2 linked regions of the Homo sapiens genome follow. The protein of the gene in region 1 interacts with the protein of each later gene in a biochemical or structural test. Each region holds a gene or a part of one and is shown on either strand. Other genes may lie near its edges.

Region 1 (5,304 bases):
TGATAAATTTAATCTAAACCAAAAGTCTCATGGCAACTCCAGGTTGGCCAGAGAAAAGCTGTTGCACATTTACTTTTGCCACTTGCCTTTTAAAGAGTCTGCAGACTTGGGATCTAATCCCACATCCCTGACTATCTGTGTCAGGTTGGCAAGGCATCTAACCTCAGTGTCTGGTGCCCTCAGTGATGAACTGTGGCTAGTGGTTCTTGTCCTACTTCCTGCAGGCGCTTGCCGCACCCAGTGGGACAGCAGCAAGGCAGATACTCCCAAAAAACAGGTAGCTCTTGGCACGAGTGTTTTGCTCTTCTTTTCCTTCCTTACCTTCTACTTGTGTTTCTCCTATCATCCTCCTTTGGAAAAGTATTGGATTTTTCTTCTATCTATAGCACGCCTCCCATTCCCAACACTTCAGCGTCTGGCCCTTTCGTGGGGTCCCTCTCACAAACAGCCTGCTGACACTGCAGGTCCCTTGGAACAGGGACCATTCCTTTTCCTCTCAGTACCTGGGCAGCTCCCTCTCAACTCCAACTTATCTCTCCACACGATGGGCAGAGATTTGGTGATTTCGGGTTTCATTCTTCAGACAGTGCCCCTGTAGAACTCCTCCACAGTGTCCCTTGATGCAGTGTGGGTGTGGGGAGGGGCCAAGATCTTGACCCTCCTGACCAGGAGAAGGAGCTGCTGTGACTCTACAGCCCCGGTCTCACAGCCACTGGGTTTATCATCTGCCTTTTGGGATCAGCAAAAGGGTTTCCTAAAGAGGTGCCGCTGCTCTTGAGAACAGAAACCTAGTGAAGATGGCACTTTTTGATGTTGAGAATATTAGGATGGCTTGGAGCTGCTGTAAGCCAGGGTAGGTTTTAGGTTTTATGAATGCTGTTTGTTTATATTAAATACAAAAATAAAAAAATAACTTGTGCTGATTTTTATGCTAATCAAGATGGCTTTGTGGATGCAGTTAAAGGTCTGCAAACCACATAAGTGAAGGAAGGAATAAATGGAACAATTATGCTAACAAATGACCCAGTCTTGGGGAATAGATGCTATGTATCTTGTTACCAGCGAATGGGCAGAGTTGTGTTCCTGTTTGAGATTGCAGAAGGAGCTGTGTGAAGAGGGTGAGGTGATGCTGACGGTTCTGCTTCCCCCTAGGTGGTGGCCTACCACTACTGCCAGGCTGACAACACGTACACTTGCCTGGTGCCCGAGTTTGTGCACAGCATCGCAGCTTTGCTCTGCCGGTCCCATCAGCTGGCCGCCTACAGAGACCTTCTGATAAAGGAGCCCCAACTACAGAGCATGCTGAGCCTCCGATCCTGTGTGCAGGACCCGGTGGCAGCTTTCAAGAGGGGAGTGCTGGAGCCACTCACAAACCTGAGAAATGGTACTTCGCAGCAGCTACCCACAGCCCCATCTCAGTAGTGGTACAGCAGACACAGGTGGTCCCCAGAAGGCAGGTGGTCAGCCGGGCTGGGGTAGAAGTGAGGTGGAGCATGGAGAGGATGTCGAAGCCTCCGTGCCCATCCACTCCTCTTTCTCAGAACCAGCCCCATGAGGTCGCTCCTACACCACCCCTATGGTATAGTGTTAAAAGAAGCACCCTGATAAGAATGAATGTGATGACTGAGCAGTTCCAAAGTAGTCAGCTTGTAAGTGTGGGCTGTTTAGGTGACTTGCACCACAGAAGACTGTTGCGTATTTTGCACTCCTAAGTATCTGAGGGAATAAGTGGATTATTTGGAGGAATTTTCCAGCATATATATTTGTCAGGGCCTCTGCTCAGTTGAATTGAAACCTTAAAGTGACTTCTAAAGGTTTCCATTTTAATTGTTTGTCCCCGACAAGGTAATGGACATCAGTGACCTGATGGGCCCTTCAGTTTCCCATCCTCTCTGCCCTGGACTCCTCACCTTTTGAGCTTGTTTACTTGCCCACATGGCACCTCTGCTGGAAGGTGCTAGAGGGATAGAAAACAGATATGTCATCATTTCTTCTCTATTGCCTGGGCAGAAAATCAGCACTAATAAATAGAAAACCAGATTCAGGCTCGCAGAGAAGAGCCCTGTTGGAGGAGTCGGTAGCGTGGAGCTCTCACGCTGTGTTGGTTGTATGGCTTGGCCAGGGCAGTTTGCCCTGGGCTGGGGGCAGCGAGGGGGTCAGTTTCCCTTCCCTGGAATCCACTGGGGAGCTCTCATGGGGGGACCTAGTGACCTTTCCGGATTGGGCCTCTGTATGTGTTCATTATCTTTGTGTAGCCCACCCCAATGACAGTGGTTTATGAAGAGCTAACTGTGTTATATACACGAGTGAGATTCTGCTAACATGTGTCATGCAATATGTTTGTTTTGTGAGAATTGGTTTTCTTTTGGCTCTGTGCTCCAGTTTTCATTATAAATTTAATAGAAAATATGCTTCTGTGAAAACTGTTTCTTGTGCCATATGTAAACCTTTTTAGTTTCTAACACTAAACTGGGCACTAAAATACACTGGGTGTTGCTGTCTTAGAGAAATGTATAATTTCTTAATTTGAAAAAATTATTTTATCCTGTAGAGCAGAAAATTCCTGAAGAAGAATACATTATTTTGATAGATGGCTTAAATGAAGCTGAGTTTCATAAACCTGATTATGGAGATACGCTTTCTTCATTTATTACCAAAATTATTTCTAAATTTCCTGCCTGGTTGAAGTTGATTGTGACTGTAAGAGCAAATTTTCAGGTAACAAAGAATTCTCAAATCTTTCTCCAAGTCCCCATTCCAATTTTACAGTGATAAATGTTAATAACGTAAAACTGTTGTAAACCATTCAGCTGCTTGAATTGGAAACTATGTTAAGAATTTGAAAAACTAGTCCAGAGAGCCAGACTTGGGTGAAACTCTGACCTTTTTAGCCCCAGGTATATTTATCAAGATGTCAGGTAAGTTTCCTGTTGGCATCGAATTGCACGTTCACTTTTCAAATGGTGGCATCTAGCCCTGGTTACCGTCATGGAGTGTGTGGGGCCAAGAGGCCTGCCAGAGTTTAAAGCTACTCCTGCTGGTAGTTATTTGCAAGGGTTTACTGTGGGGCTTTGTGTTTTTTTGAAGGGAAAAATGAAGGTGAAAGATTTTTTTTTTTTTTTTTTTTGAGATAGAGTCTCGCTCTGTCACCCAGGATGGAGTGCAGTGGCATGATCTCGGCTCAATGCAGCCTCCGCCTCCCTGGTTCCAGTGATTCTCCTGCCTTGGCCTCCGGAGTAGCTGGGATTACAGGCATCTGCCACCATGCCCAGCTAATTTTTGTATTTTTAGTAGAGACGGATTTTCACCATGTTGGCCAGGCTGGTCTCCAACTCCTGACCTCAGGTGATCCACCCACCTTGGCCTCCCAAAGTGCTGGGATTACAGGCATGAGCCACTGTGCCTGGCTGAAGGTGAAACATTTTTAAGGCCTATTCCCAGAGGTCTATTTTTTCACAAAACTTAAGCATGAGGTAACATTTGCAGCGAGGGGTAGGGTGATTTTTTTTTTCTCCTCCATCTTCTTCCTCACTTAAACCCTGAAATTGTGTCTTAACCATTGACTCCTTCTATACCTATCCTTTTTCAGTGAAGACTTTTAGACATTAGGTTTTGATTTTTGCCCTTTTATGATATTTATTTAAAAACAGCATTTGGAATTTTTTCATTATAAAAACTGAAATTAGACCTCAGTTGAACTTGATGCGTGTTTTTTGGACATTCAGTTTGTATATTTTTCAGTCATTTTTTACATAGTAAGCACAATTTGTCCATCAGTAGATCATAGGAACCAGGAATCTTACGTTCTTCTTCCCAGCTGTGTAAGTTTTCAGAGCTTCAGATAGCATCCATGTAAAATGGGAATAATTGTATTCTGCCCTCTTTATCTACATTGTTATATTAAATGAGCACGTGCATTTAAATACTTCAGAAACAATAGTGGGAAGTCTTTTTAAAAAGGCAAAACTCTTCTTTGCTTTTAGGTGTCAGATGTGCTTAATCTTTGGAATGGGGAAGAGATGGGAAGGGCACATGAGGCTTCTGGGAGCTGAGGATGTTTTGTTTCTGGGTGCTGGTTACATAGGTATATTTGACTTAGTGAAAATTAGTGACACTGTGCAATTGTCATTTGTACACAAATCATATGTTCATTGTTAGACTTCAATTTAAAAGTTTACTTTAAAAAAGCAATTCATAAAATAACGTGCTATACCAAAGTAGGCAGCTTTGTTAAGATGCGCTGTCGTTGAGACACAGCCCAGGGGCAGACTCAGATTTCCTGATTGGGTTACACAGCCCCAGTGTTTGCTGCATAAAGAAGGATGTCTTTTATCTTGGCGTCTGGCCGTGTTCTTAGATGTGCAGTGTTGGTTGGTGTTTGTCCTTGTTATATAAGCAGTTTCACAGTGTAAGGATTATGGGTATCAGGTCACCTGCAGAGTCTCACTGCCCTTACTGGCCCTGGCCTCGTTGCCGCTGTCTGCACAGGGCTCTTACTCTGCTTGCTAGGCTCAGGGTCCTTGGATGAGGGCCTCAGGATAGCACTTACTGATTCCATCTCCCATCAGGATTTCTTTCACATAAGCTTTTTATCTTCACCTTATCCTATTACACGTTTTAATACAAAACAATGAGTCCCTGTAATCCATGAAAATCCTCCTTGAAACAAAACTAGTGAATCTGGTTTAAAATGCTGTTAAAATAAAAAAGGAATCTCTTTAGAGTGACACTGTGGGTTTTTGTTTTCTCCCCCAGGAAATCATAAGTGCGCTGCCATTTGTCAAGCTTTCCTTAGATGACTTCCCAGACAACAAAGACATCCACAGTGACCTGCACGCCTACGTCCAGCACAGGGTGCACAGCAGCCAGGACATCCTCAGCAACATCTCCCTGAATGGCAAGGCCGATGCCACACTCATTGGAAAAGTGAGCAGCCACCTGGTGCTGCGGAGCCTCGGCTCCTACCTGTACCTCAAGCTCACCCTGGACCTTTTCCAGAGGGGCCACTTGGTCATTAAGAGTGCCAGCTACAAGGTGGTGCCCGTGTCTCTCTCTGAGCTCTATTTGCTTCAGTGCAACATGAAGTTCATGACCCAGTCCGCCTTTGAGAGGGCACTTCCGATTCTCAACGTGGCCCTCGCATCCCTCCACCCCATGACAGACGAGCAGATCTTTCAGGCTATTAATGCTGGCCACATCCAGGGGGAGCAGGGATGGGAAGACTTTCAGCAGAGGATGGACGCCCTCTCCTGCTTCCTCATTAAGAGGCGAGACAAAACCCGCATGTTCTGCCACCCGTCCTTC
Region 2 (5,304 bases), on another chromosome or scaffold:
TTCTCTCTGCCCAGGCTACTTCCTACCCGATACTTAAGGCAAGAATCACTCACCTTTCAGGTGTCAGGTTTCAGGTCATGTTTGCTCTTTGAAATCATCTGGCTTGATTATGTGTATTAGTTGTTTATCTTCTATCCCCTCCACTAGAATGTAAATTCCAGAAGAAACTTGCTGTCTTATTCAGTGCTGCATGCCCAGGGCTTGGAAGAGTACCTGGCATATAGTAGGAGTTGATTGATTATTATTTTGTCAGTCGAGAGAATGAATGGAGAAAATGTGGTCCATGGCCCAAAAGAAGTTAAGACCCTATCCTAGATTCAGGCCAGAGACCAGATGGAGAAAGAGTCTGTGTCTATCTAATACCAGTAATGTCGTACCTCTGGCCGCTTACCATGTAAATATTGATTGTGTATCTACCATGTGTTGGACACTAGGCTAGTGCTTGCACAGCAGGTGAAAGATACTAGAGTTTGGGAAGTCAGGAGGAGCTAAGGTCTGTTCTACAACCTTATTAGATGAAGAGGAGAGGGAATTGTGTTCAGGGCAGAGGGAGAAGCATTTCTCCAAAAGTAGGAGTCTTAATCATGTCTGATGTAGGTTGAGTGTGGCCAGAAAAGGGGCTGTTAAGTATAGAGGGCCTGGATTATGAAAATCCAGCAGATCCATTGAGAGTTTAAGCAGCAAGGTGTTGTGACCAAGTTAACATTTTAGAAGGATCACTGGTATGGAGGTTGGATTGGAGAGGGGAAAGCCTAAAGGTATAGAGACTAGTTAGGAAGCTATTGTAGGCTGGGCATGGTGGTTCATGCCTGTAATCTCAGCACTTTGGGAGGCTGAGGTGGGAGGATTGCTTGAGGCCAGGAGTTGAAGACCAACCTGGCCAACATAGCAAGACCCCGTCTCTGTTTTTCTTAATTAAAAGAAAAGTCCAGACGTAGACATAGTGGCTCACGCCTGTAATGCCAGCACTTTGGGAGGCCAAGGTGGGCAGATTGCTTGAGGTCAAGAGTTTGGGATTAGGCCAGGCGCAGTGGCTCACGCCTGTAATCCCAGCACTTTGGGAGGCCGAGGTGGGCGGATCACAAGGTCAGGAGATCAAGACCATCCTGGCTAACACAATGAAACCCCGTCTCTACTAAAAGTACAAAAATTAGCCGGGCATGGTGGCGGACGCCTGTAGTCCCAGCTACTCGGGAGGCTGAGGCAGGAGAATGGCATGAACCTAGGAGGCGGAGCTTGCTGTGAGCAGAGATCACGCCACTGCACTCCAGCCTGAGCGACAGAGCGAGACTCCATCTCAAAAAAAAAAAAGAGTTTGGGATTAGCCTGGCCAACATGGCAAAACCCCATCTCTACAAAAAGTACAAAAAAATTAGCTGGGTATGGTGGTGCGCGCCTGTAATCCCAGTTACTCAGGAGGCTGAGGCATGAGAATTGCTTGAGCCTGGGAGGTGGAGGTTGCAGTGAGCCCAGATCATGCCACTGCACTCCAGCCTGGATGACAGAGTAAGATGCCATCTCAAATAAAAATTAAAAACAAAGTTTAAAAAAAAAATAGAAGCTATTACCGTGATCCAGGTAAGAGATGTGAATAACTACAATGATGGAAAGAAGGCAGAGTTCTTAGAGATGGGAGTAGGAGAGATGAGGGAACTCCAGATTGGGAAGATGATGTTCAAGTTTCTGGCTTAGGCCACAGGGTGAGTGGCAATTCCCTTCACTGAGATGGGGCATCCTGGAAAAGGTGTTGCCTTTCTGTGTGGGTATCCTGGGCCCCTTAGGGGCCACTGGTGGCCTGGGACCTGGTAAACCTTCCCTGCACAAGCAGAATTGGTCAAGCAGGTTTTTAGGACATCTTTACCCTGCCTCAACTCTTGTCTGGCCCAGGGTCAACCGGATGCACATCAGTCCCAACAATCGAAACGCCATCCACCCTGGGGACCGCATCCTGGAGATCAATGGGACCCCCGTCCGCACACTTCGAGTGGAGGAGGTAGAGTGTGTGTCTAATCTGTCTTGTGAGGGTGGGACATGGAACAGATCCTCTGAGAAATCAGGCTGTAGCCTTTACCTTTTCCTACCCCCAGCCCATCTCTTTGTCTTAGCATTGAGCCTGTGACCACTGGTGACCTATTTCAGCGTAACAGGTTCCCAGGGTAGCAGGGATGGTTGATGGACGGGAGAGCTGACAGGATGCCAGGCAGAGGGCACTGTGAGGCCACTGGCAGCTAAAGGCCACCATTAGACAAGTTGAGCACTGGCCACACTGTGCCTGAGTCATCTGGGTTGGCCATGGGTGGCCTGGGATGGGGCAGCCTGTGGGAGCTTTATACTGCTCTTGGCCACAGGTGGAGGATGCAATTAGCCAGACGAGCCAGACACTTCAGCTGTTGATTGAACATGACCCCGTCTCCCAACGCCTGGACCAGCTGCGGCTGGAGGCCCGGCTCGCTCCTCACATGCAGAATGCCGGACACCCCCACGCCCTCAGCACCCTGGACACCAAGGAGAATCTGGAGGGGACACTGAGGAGACGTTCCCTAAGGTGCCACCTCCCACCCTGGCTCTGTTCTGTCCTATGTCTGTCTCTCGGATGAAGCTGAGCTGGCTTTCAGAAGCCTGCAGAGTTAGGAAAGGAACCAGCTGGCCAGGGACAGACTATGAGGATTGTGCTGACCCAGCTGCCCCTGTGGGGATCACAGTTTACAGCCAGAGCCTGTGCGGACCCAGCTGTCTGCCAGGTTTCCTTAGAAACCTGAGAGTCAGTCTCTGTCCACTGAACTCCTAAGCTGGACAGGAGGCAGTGATGCTAAACCCTGAAGGGCAACATGGCCTATGGAGAAAGCATGGAGCTCAGAGCCTGGAGTAGGGGCACAGATAGGATTGAATAAATTGTGTAGAAAGACTTTGAAAACAATAAAGCAAAAGATGAATGAACGTTTTTTTTAGACTTGAGGGACCAACAACCCCCAAACCCCAGATTCTGCCAGGTCCATGGGGAAGGAGAAGTTGCCTTGAGTGGAAGCCCCAAGTAGGGAGACTTACAGAAAAGAAGTCAAGAGCACTGGCTCCCAGGCAGAAATACTGATACCCTACTGGGGCTTCAGGCTGAGCTCCTCCCTTCACAAATCACTTCATCTCTCTGAGCCTGTTTCTGCATCTGTGACATAAGATGGTAAGATAAAGGTGGCTGTCTCACCAATTATGTAAGGATTAAATGTGGAAAAGGACATAAAGTTGTATAGTGCTGCCATAGGGACAGTGTTCAGTAAACGTGACACATTCTTAGTATCACTAAGAATCAGGTTCTTGGCCAGGCACCGTGGCTCATGCCTGTAATCCCAACACTCTGGGAGGCCTAGGTCGGAGGATGGCTTGAACACAGGAGTTTGAGACCAGCCTGAGCAACATAGTGAGACACTGTCTCTACAAAAAAAAAATAATAATAATAATTGTTTTTAATTAGATGGGCAGGGCACTGTGGCTCACACCTGTAATCCCAGCACTTTGGGAGGCCAAGGCCGGAGGATTGCTTGAGGCCAGGAGTTCAGGAGCAGCCTGGGCCACATTCCTGTCTCTACAAAGAATAAAAAACTTAACTGGGCATGGTGGCACATGCCTGTAATCCCAGCTACTCAAGAGGCTGAGGAGGAGGATTGCCTGAGCCCAGGAGTTCAAGACTGCAGTGAGCCTTGATCACACCACTGTACTACAGCTTGGGCAACAGAGTGAGACCTTGTCTCCAAAAAAAAAAGTTTGTTTTTTTTTATCCACTCTCCTCACCAAACAAACTGAGTAAGTTAGAGCCCTCTCAGCTGGCATGTGTTGGAAACAGTGCCCTCTCATTAAAGTGCTGCCCTCACTCCCATTGCCTCTTGGCCTTGGTCAGTATGATGAAATTAGTGGGAGGCAGGGCAACAGAGGGCAGGGAAGAGCTAGAAATCCATGGCCTGGAAAAGGGAAGATTTGGGAGTGGCCAGGTATCTGTAGAGCCACCATGCAGAGGAGGGGGGCAGCTAGCCTTGTGTGCTCTGGTGGGCATGGTCAGCAGGAGGCAGAGCAAAAGGACAAGGGTAAGTAAACCTGTAGGTCGGGACAAGCCAAGAGCCATCCAGCGTCAGTCCTCTCTGGGTAGCCCAAGTAAAGCAGGAGCATACCCCAGAGAGAAAGTTCGCAGGGCTGTTCACCTGCAGTGCTGTGGACTTCAACCTTCTTGTTCCTTCTTCAGTAAGTGAAAATAACAGTCATTGACCATGACTATTATCGACCGCTTTTGAAAATGTAAACATAGTGACTTTATTGCTGTAAAAATCATACGTGTTTATCATCTTAAAATTCAGGAAACATGGACAGGTACAAAGATGTGCAAAATATCATCCAAAATCCCATTTGCTGGCCAGGCACGGTGGCTCACGCCTGTAATCCCAGCACATTGGGAGGCCGAGGCGGGCAAATCACTTGAGGTCAGGAGTTTGAGACCAGCCTGGCCAACATGGTGAAACCCTATCTCTACTAAAAATACAATAATTAGGCTGGGCGCAGTGGCTCACGCCTATAATCCCAGCACTTTGGGAGGCCGAGGTGGGCGAATCACAAGGTCAGGAGTTTGAGACTAGCCTGGCCAATATGGTGAAACCCCATCTCTACTAAAAATACAAAAATTAGGGCCGGGTGTGGTGGCTCACGCCTGTAATCCCAGCACTTAGGGAGGCCGAGACAGATGGATCGCGAGATCAGGAGTTCGAGACCAACCTAGCCAACATGGTGAAACCCCATCTCTACTAAAAAAATACAAAAATTATTCGGTTGTGGTGGCACACGCCTGTAATCCCAGCTACTTGGGAGGCTGAGGCAGGAGAATCTCTTGAACCTGGGAGGCAGAGGTTGCAGTGAGTGGAGATCCCGCCGTTGCACTCCAGCCTGGGCGACAGAGTGAGACTCCATCAAAAAAAAAAAAAAAAAAAAAAAAATTAGCCGGGCGTGGTGGCGTGCACCTATACTCCCAGCTACTTGGGAGGCTGAGGCAGGAGAATCGCTTGAACCTGGAAGGCGGAGGTCGCAGTGAGCCGAGATCGTGCCATTGCACTTCAGCCTGGGCGACAGAGCGAGACTCTGTCTCAAAAATAATAATAATAACAATAACTAGCCGGGCCTGGTGGCACATGCCTGTAGTCCCAGTTACTCAGGAGGCGGAGGCATGAGACTCAGGTGAACTAGGGAGACAGAGGTTGCAGTGAGCCAAGATCACACCACTGCACTCCAGCCTGGTTGACAGAGCGAGACTCTGTCTCAAAAAAAAAAAAT

The links. Proteins that work in one complex are often made in the same cells at the same time.
Region 2: the proteins of TANC1 (region 1) and LIMK2 interact in a test that uses a peptide from one of them, tested with the Homo sapiens proteins (one large-scale study listed by IntAct).

The regions. Positions count from the first base shown.
Region 1 is NC_000002.12:159,173,801-159,179,104, forward strand, and holds part of TANC1 (protein TANC1), read left to right. Parts: intron 1-1,152; coding exon 1,153-1,384; intron 1,385-2,551; coding exon 2,552-2,718; intron 2,719-4,755; coding exon 4,756-5,304. UniProt on the Homo sapiens protein: May be a scaffold component in the postsynaptic density.
Region 2 is NC_000022.11:31,260,247-31,265,550, forward strand, and holds part of LIMK2 (LIM domain kinase 2), read left to right. Parts: intron 1-1,887; coding exon 1,888-1,993; intron 1,994-2,348; coding exon 2,349-2,545; intron 2,546-5,304. UniProt on the Homo sapiens protein: Serine/threonine-protein kinase that plays an essential role in the regulation of actin filament dynamics. Acts downstream of several Rho family GTPase signal transduction pathways.